Homo sapiens: one gene and its partner. The protein of the gene in region 1 purifies or fractionates together with the protein of each later gene. This does not show direct contact. Each region holds a gene or a part of one and is shown on either strand. Other genes may lie near its edges.

What was found.
Region 2: the proteins of ZNF302 (region 1) and DMC1 purify together in Homo sapiens (affinity purification with mass spectrometry; 2 studies listed by BioGRID and IntAct, with this or other methods). This does not show direct contact.

Annotation. Positions count from the first base shown.
Region 1 is NC_000019.10:34,675,957-34,679,869, forward strand, and holds the start of ZNF302 (zinc finger protein 302), read left to right. Parts: upstream 1-1,721; 5' UTR 1,722-2,147; intron 2,148-2,780; 5' UTR 2,781-2,848; coding exon 2,849-2,857; intron 2,858-3,871; coding exon of another isoform or gene 3,872-3,913. UniProt on the Homo sapiens protein: May be involved in transcriptional regulation.
Region 2 is NC_000022.11:38,563,369-38,567,281, reverse strand, and holds part of DMC1 (meiotic recombination protein DMC1/LIM15 homolog), read left to right. Parts: intron 1-545; coding exon 546-692; intron 693-3,913. UniProt on the Homo sapiens protein: Participates in meiotic recombination, specifically in homologous strand assimilation, which is required for the resolution of meiotic double-strand breaks.

The DNA of each region.
Region 1 (3,913 bases):
GCAGCTCATAAAGGTAGTGCAGACCCAAAGAGCAAAAGAACAAACATCCCACACCTGGGAAGTAGACCCCAGCGCGGTTGCCGCTGGTTGTTCGGGTGGCCCGTTTTTATTCCCTTATTTGGCCCCGCCCACATCCTGCTGATTTGTCCATTTTACAGAGCGCTGATTGGTCTATTTTACAGAGTGCTGTTTGGTCCGTTTTTACAGAGTGCTGACTGGTGCATTTACAAACCTTTAGCTAGACACAGAGCACTGATTGGTGTATTTACAATCCTTCAGCTATACAGAAAAGTTCTCCAAGGCCCCACCTGATCCAGAAGCCCAGCTGGCTTCACCTCTCGGTTATATGCTAATTATATGCATTAGCACGCTAAGAGAAACGCTCATCAGTGCCATGGCAATTTACAAATGCCATGGTAAGGTTCAGAAGTTACCCTGTATGGTTCAAAAAGCTGGGAAGCCCTCAGCTCCGAGAAATTGAAATTGCCCACCTCTTTCCTGGAAAACTCATGAATAATCCACCCTTGTTTAGCACATCATCAAGCAATAAATACAAGTATCCCTAGTCCAGCAGCCCAAGCTGCTGCTCTAACAATGGAGTACCCATTGTTTCTTTACTTTCTTAATACACTTGCTTTGGCTTTGCACTGTGCTCTCCCATGGATTTTTTCTTGCGTGAGCTCTAAGAACTCTCTCTTGGGGTCGGATCCGGACCCCTTTCTGGTAACAGAAGCACTGCTTCACGAAGATCATGCAGGTCAGTACTTAATAAGTACAAAAAAGTCTATAGCGACACTATTTATAATTTTAAAAATGATTGAAGTCAATTAACATTTAAGTGTTAAAAAGAAAGTAAACAACCCAAATATACACAAACAGTAGACTGCTCTGGCTTGCATACAGAGAGGTCCATTGCCCTTTTGGGTGGGCCTAAGAAGCACTTCTGGGGAGAGGGGGCGTCAGGCTGTGATGGCTGCGGGAGGAGTGACTCCTCCCAGGATGAGGGTCTCCATCCTCCCAGTGCTCACTCAAGTTCAGTATTTCCAAGTCCTTCCAGGGGCGTAACGCACGTCAGAACGGCCATTAGTGTCACAGATACGTGTCCCCTTGCATTTCCAGGAAATGCCCTTGGTTGGCGAACTACAGTCGTGACAGTCGGGCCACAGGGCGTTTTGTGAGTTATCGTCTTGGGCAAATGAGTGCCAAAAAAAAAAAAAAAAAAAGACCTGAAGGTGAACAGCATAGCGGCAGGGTTTGGGATGAGAGGAGCCCCTTTGCTAGCAACGGCGAGCACTTGCGCGGTACCAGCAAGGGCTGCCCATGTCTCGGAGGGAAACGTTTGTGTGAGCGCAGGAATGACCCGGAAGACCTTGGCACGGCTGCAGTTTTCTGGGAAATGTAATTTCTTGGTCCGGGCGCCATGGCCCTTATAAGTAGAGGGTGTCCCTTGGTTTCGAGTTGTATCGTTCACCAGAGGACGACTGTGTGCCCCAGGACAATTTGCGCATGGTCCTAGCTGGCCGGCTCTAGGTCGACGGCCCCAGGCGGTTAAGCTACTTACAAAGCCGTGACCGGTTTGCCCGCGGCGCACCAGGTCCGCGCAGCCGCAGAGACCCTTGGGAAGTGTGGTCTTCGGGTGCCGGCGGTTCGCGGCTTCCGGGACATTTGTACCGCAGGGGGAGGATTCTGGGAAATGTGGTTCGCCGTGGGCGGTGCACTGGGTCAGTCCCGCGATAGCTTCAGGCCTGGCGGCGGCTTCCAAGCTAAGGAACGGTTTGGGGCAGTGTCGTTCCCGGAGGTCGGCCGCCGTTACCCGCTCACCAGCTACGCGGCGCGTCAGGTCCGCGGAGGCGCGGGCTCGGGGCGCCTGCGGGACGGTGAGGCCCTGCTGAGGACTCCGGCAAGTGTGGGTCGCGGCGACGGCGGGGCTAAGGCCCTGGGTCCGCGCGCGGTTTGACCACGGCCGGGGCCTTGGGCATTTCCTGGCCTTCCTGTTGAGCCGTGTAAACGCGGGGTGATGACGGCGCCGACCTCTTGGCACTGTTGTGAGAGCGAAGTGGGCGCGAGAGCAGACGCCAGCTACAGTTTTTTTTGGGTTATGTCGTCATGAAGCCGGCGCTTTCAGTTGTGCAACCTTGAACAAATGGGTTCAGTATCTCGGAATTTCAGTTTTGTCTTCATTTTAAAAAATAAATCTGGTTTAGAACTCGACCTCAAGCGATCCGCCCGCCTCCGCCTTCCGAAGTGCTGGGATTAAAGGCGTAAGCCACCGCACCAGCCTAACGAACATGGCGAAACGCCGTCTCTACTAAAAATACAAAAAAAAATTAGCTGGGCGTGGTGGCACGTGTCTATAATCCCAGCTATTCGAGAGGTTGAGGTAGGAGAATCGCTTCAACCCGGGAGGCAGAGGTTGCAGTGAGTCGAGGTCGCTCCATTGCACTCCAGCCTGGAGACAGAACGAGACTCCGTCTCAAAAAAAAAAAAAAAAAAATCTGGAATAATATGAATGCACACCTTGCAAAGTGGTGAAGACTGAACGAGCTGATAAAGTTGTTACCGTTGTTTTATGAGTCTTTTGTATACAGAATAATTGATTTTCCCCGCAGGTGGCACCTGGTAAATAGCCCTTGCGGAGAAACACCCTGTTCCTTCCCAGGGAGAGATTGACGCTCCGGCGAGTGATTACCAGTGTGCTTTTCCATTAAGGTGTGTGACAGGTGCCGCAAGATAAGCCCGATTTTTCATGACTGCTTTTTCCTGCCTTTCTGTGCCCTCAGGACACTGCCCATCTCTAAGATAAGAACCTGGAAAGGGGACTCTGTTGGCCATTGGAAATTGCAGAATAATGTCTCAGGTAAGTCGGTGTGTCCCCAAATCTTCCTGAAACACTTTATTAGGCCTCTGTGTGTTTGCTTTGCTTCTCCTGCCTGTTCCCACCTAATCAAGTCCATTTAAGGGACTAGATCTATGGTTCCTTTCACTATAGGAAGAATGGAGCCCACAGGAGAGCTCCAAGGTATTGTCCTCATCACCCAGTGTTCCTCTTTTCTACAGTTTTCTGCTAGAAGACTTTCTAGATTGCCAACATTTTAAAACTGTAATTCACAATGCAACTTTGGAATGTAAGGTTATTCGGTTTATGGTTGTCAAAACTGTACCATGTGGTCTCAAGTGAAGAGATGTTTGGAGTCATCCTTGATTCTTCCTTTTGACTTATAACTCATATTCAGGTCCTCTAGTTTGGATCTAAACGATACACCGTATACAGCATCTGACCATTAGTTAGCCCATCACCACCACCACCACTACCACCCCAGTCCGAGCCACCTGGATTATTGCGGTAGCCTCCTAGCTGGATTCCCAGCATCTGCCCTTAACCCTCATCAGTCTGTTCTCAGTACAGCTGTGACCATGGTCCTATTGTTATATAAATTCCTGTCATTCCGCAACCTAAAATTTTTCAGTGGTTCTAACTGAGTCACTTCTGCAATGACCTATTTGTACAATTAGGCCATTACCTCCCTGATCCCACCTTCCTTCTCTGCCTCCTCATTCCTGTGCGCTCCAGCCTCTGTCACCAGTTGCTGTGCCATCCACGTGGAATATTCTTCCCCCACATACGCACAAGCTTGCATCCTTATCTCCTTCTGTGTTTGTTCCGTGGTTACTTTCTCAGAACAGCTTCCCTGAAAGCCTATTTGCAATTGCAGTCACCTTCCCTAGCGCTTCCACTCCTCCATCACTGCTTTGTTGTTTTCCACAGTGTGTGTCACTCACTAGCTGATGTACTGTATGTTCAGTATATGCACGTGCTCATTGTCTGTTCCTGGTGGGAGGAATGCTTTTTCTTCTTTGTTGACTGTTATAGCGTCAGTACCCAGAGTGTTACCTGGCACCAAATGGATGCTTA
Region 2 (3,913 bases), on another chromosome or scaffold:
GTGGATTTCAACAGCAATCAGTTGATAGTAAAACTGTGCTGACATTATCTGTTGTAGCCCTAACATTTAATCTCTTTCAGTGGTTTTAGAAAATAGAAGCAAGAGAAAATCCTGGTCCTTTGGTGATGTAGTTATTTGCATTCTCCAGGGGCAGAGGAAAAAAAAAATCTTTACAAATTTAAAAGAACATGTTGGTAATGAAGTTCTGTAGAAGGAAGGAGCTGAACTGAGGGGGTGAATGTGTGATAAATTTGTTAGCTTTTCCACCAACAGGCTTTTCTTTTGAATTCCTTGTTACATTGCCATGGTCTCACTAACATTCTTGGGAAATCAGGGCACAGTCAGAACATTTGGCAGCCTGCTGAGTATGTTCTACTCAGATATTTCCAGAACATTTGGCTACATGGTGGGTGGGTTCCACCTGGCAGCTTGTATAAAATTGGCATCATGGTGGAAGGAGATGGACACAGAAACACATGACATAGTATGGGAGCCTTGCAGGCTGGCATCTTATCAGTCTGCTGTGCCCATTCTTTAATTTACAGAACGTGGCTGACATTAAGAAACTGAAATCAGTAGGAATCTGTACCATCAAAGGTATACAGATGACAACAAGAAGAGCTCTATGCAATGTCAAAGGACTCTCAGAAGCCAAAGTAGACAAGATTAAAGAGGCAGCGAACAAACTAATTGTAAGCAAAATCCATTCTTTGCTGTTTTAGCTTGGCAGGGCCTTGTGAATCTTTATAGGCTTTCTCATGAAAACTAGAAATTATTGTGGGAACTGAGTTCCTGTAGATCACAGTATATTATACTCCCCATGTTAACTTTTTATCACTTCAGTTTCAAAGCAACAGCAATTGATTTCTGAAAGATGAAGGTAGGGATTAAGAGACCTGGAACACTAATGAAGGTAATTATTTTTGCCAAAACTTTTTGTCTCTCTTTATATTACTTTTTCTGGCTGTCTCTGCCTTTCCTTCTCCTTTCCTTTTTTTTTTTTTTTTCTGAGACAGAGTCTTGCTCTGTCGCCAGGCCAGAGTGCAGTGGCGTGATCTCAGCTCACTGCAACCTCCACCTCCGGGGTTCAAGCGAGTCTCCTGCCTCAGCCTCCTGAGTAGCTGGGACTACAGGCACACAGCACCACGCCCAGCTAATTTTGTATTTTTAGTAGAGACGAGGTTTCACCATGTTGGCCAAGATGGTCTCAATTTCCTGACCTCGTGATCTGCCTGCCCTGGCCTCCCAAAGTGCTGGGATTACAGGCATGAGCCACCATGCTCGGCCTTCATTTTTATTTTTTACCTTTCTCCTCCTCAGTTTTGTCTTGTCTCCTCAAATATCATACCTATGGCTGTTGTGAAGCACTGAGTACCAAAGAAGTTGCTCTCTCCTGGTATAGGAGATTGATATATAGCCAATTGATATAGCCAATTGATAAGAGAGCACTGGATTAGAAAAAGACCAACAGTGGTTGGGTCTACATATGTGCAGTTGAGATAGATATGACCAAGCATGTGCTCACTGAAGCAGCTGAGCTAAGCTAACCCATACTGATGCAGGGCAGGTGAGCCCCCAAATTGAGGCTTAACCTGGGAGGGTTCTTGGCTTTGCCCAAAGGTGAGCCAGTGGTGTTGGACAGCAACTTTTGTTGAAGCAGCCCAGTACAGTGCAGCAGAGGTACTGCTCCTTGCAGAGCAGGGCTACCTCATAGGCAGTATGCCCAGAAGTAGCAGCTCAGAGGCAGTTTTGCCATTATAGTTATACCCACTTTTAATTACGTGCAAATTAAGGGGCAGTTTATGCATAAATTTCTAGAAAAAGTGGTAATTTCTGGGTCATTGGGTCATTGCAATGGAAAGGGGCAGTAACTTCCAGGTGTTGCCATAGCAATGGTAAACTGACATGGCACATTGGTGGGCCATGTCTTATGGAAAGTTGCTTCTGCCCTGGACCCTGTTTTAGCTAGTTCTCAATTTGGTCTGGTGTCTGAGCCCCACCTCTGGAGTCAAATCCCCTCTCCTACCTTACTACTTTCTAGCAGGGCCCACTGACTGTGAGGGGCCTTTGCAACTGCCAGGCTGCCAGACAAAAGCCTATATACCTTTGACCCAAGCTTTTATGTAGAGCTTTTGGGAATCACTAGAGGTACCAGCTCTTGAAATAGGAAAGCAAAGAAAGGTAGTCACTAAGTCTTCCTCTTCATTTAATAGCAGGCCTCTCCATTTCTCTATTGGTATGTGAGGGTCTCATTCCCAGTGAGTCTGAGAAGCTCTCTTCACCAACGGCCATTTGGTTTCCTTCTTCAGAGGCAGCCAAGGCAGGAGAGTGATGCAAGTGGCAGTGTGATCCTGAACTTGGAGGGGACTCAACCGAACTGAATCACTCTGAACCCAGCTCAGTTGCTCTAGCTTCTGAGTACACTCAGGCAGTGTACCCACAAGTCAATTCCACAACTGCCAGGGTGTTGAAGAAAGCCCTGGAGCAGTACTCAGGGTTTGGGAAACTGCTCTATGACATTAGAGTTGTTTTCTTTGGAAATTAAATCTTATTACCAAAGAAAAGAACCTCTCTCTTTCTCAAGCACCCACTACTGCACCAAGAATCTTCTCCTTTCTTAGCTTAAACTGTTTATTCTTTTTTATTTGTATTTTTTAAGAGACGGGTATCAGGCCAGGTGCAGTGGCTTACGCCTGTAATCCCAGCACTTTGGGAGGCTGAGGCGGGCGGATCATGAGGTCAGGAGTTCAAGACCAACATAGTGGCCAACATAGTGAAACCCTGTCTCTACTAAAAATACAAAAATTAGCCAGGCATGGTGGCAGGTGCCTGTAGTCCCAGCTACTTGGGAGGCTGAGACAGGAGAATCACTTGAAACTGAGAGGCAGAGGTTGCAGTGAGGCAAGATCACGCCACTACGCTCCAGCCTGGGTGACACAGCGAGACTCTGTCTCAAAAGAAAAAAAAAGAGAGAGAGAGAAGGGTATCTCACTATGTTGCCCAGTCTGGGCTTGAACTCCTGGGTTCAAGTGATCCTCCTGCCTCTGCTTCTGAAGTACATGGGACTACAGGAATATGCCACTGTGCCCAGTTTTATTTATTCATTTATTTTTGAGACAAGGTCTCACTCTATCACCCTGGCTGGAGTACAGTGGCTCAATCACAGTTCACTGTGGCCTTGACCTCCCAGGCTCAAGCGATCCTCCCACCTCAGCCTCCTCAGTAGCTAGGACTACAGGCATATGCTACCATGTCCAGCTAATTTTTAAAAATTTTTGTGGAGGCCGGGCCTGGTGGCTCACGCCTGTAATCCCAGCACTTTGGGAGGCCGAGGCAGGCGGATCATGAGGTCAGGAGATCGAGACCATCCTGGCTAACACAGTGAAACCCTGTCTCTACTAAAAATACAAAAATATTAGCCGGGTGTGGTGGCAGGCGCCTGTAGTCCCAGCTACTCGGGAGGCTGAGTCAGGAGAATGGCGTGAACCCAGGAGGTGGAGCTTGCAGTGAGCTGAGATCGCGCCACTGCACTCCAGCCTGGGCGACAGAGCGAGACTCCATCTCAAAAAAAAAAAAAAATTTGTGGAGATGGGGGAGGGGTGGTCTTACTATATTGGCCAGGCTGGTCTTGAACTGCTGGCATCAAGCAGTCCTCCCGCCTCAGCCTCTCAAAGTGCTGGGATTACAGGTGTGAGCTACTGCACCCAGTTGTTTATTCTTAGAGATAGAGAAAGTGATTGAGAGAGAGAGAGAGACAGAGAGAGAGGAGAGAAAGAAAGGAAGTTAATTTCATAATACGGTGGTTCTAAACACTGATGTGTATCAGAATCACCTGGTGTGGCTAATAAAGAAAACAGAAGCCCAGACTTGGCTCACTCAAGTAGGATAGGACCTGGGCTTGGCTGTCCCCATT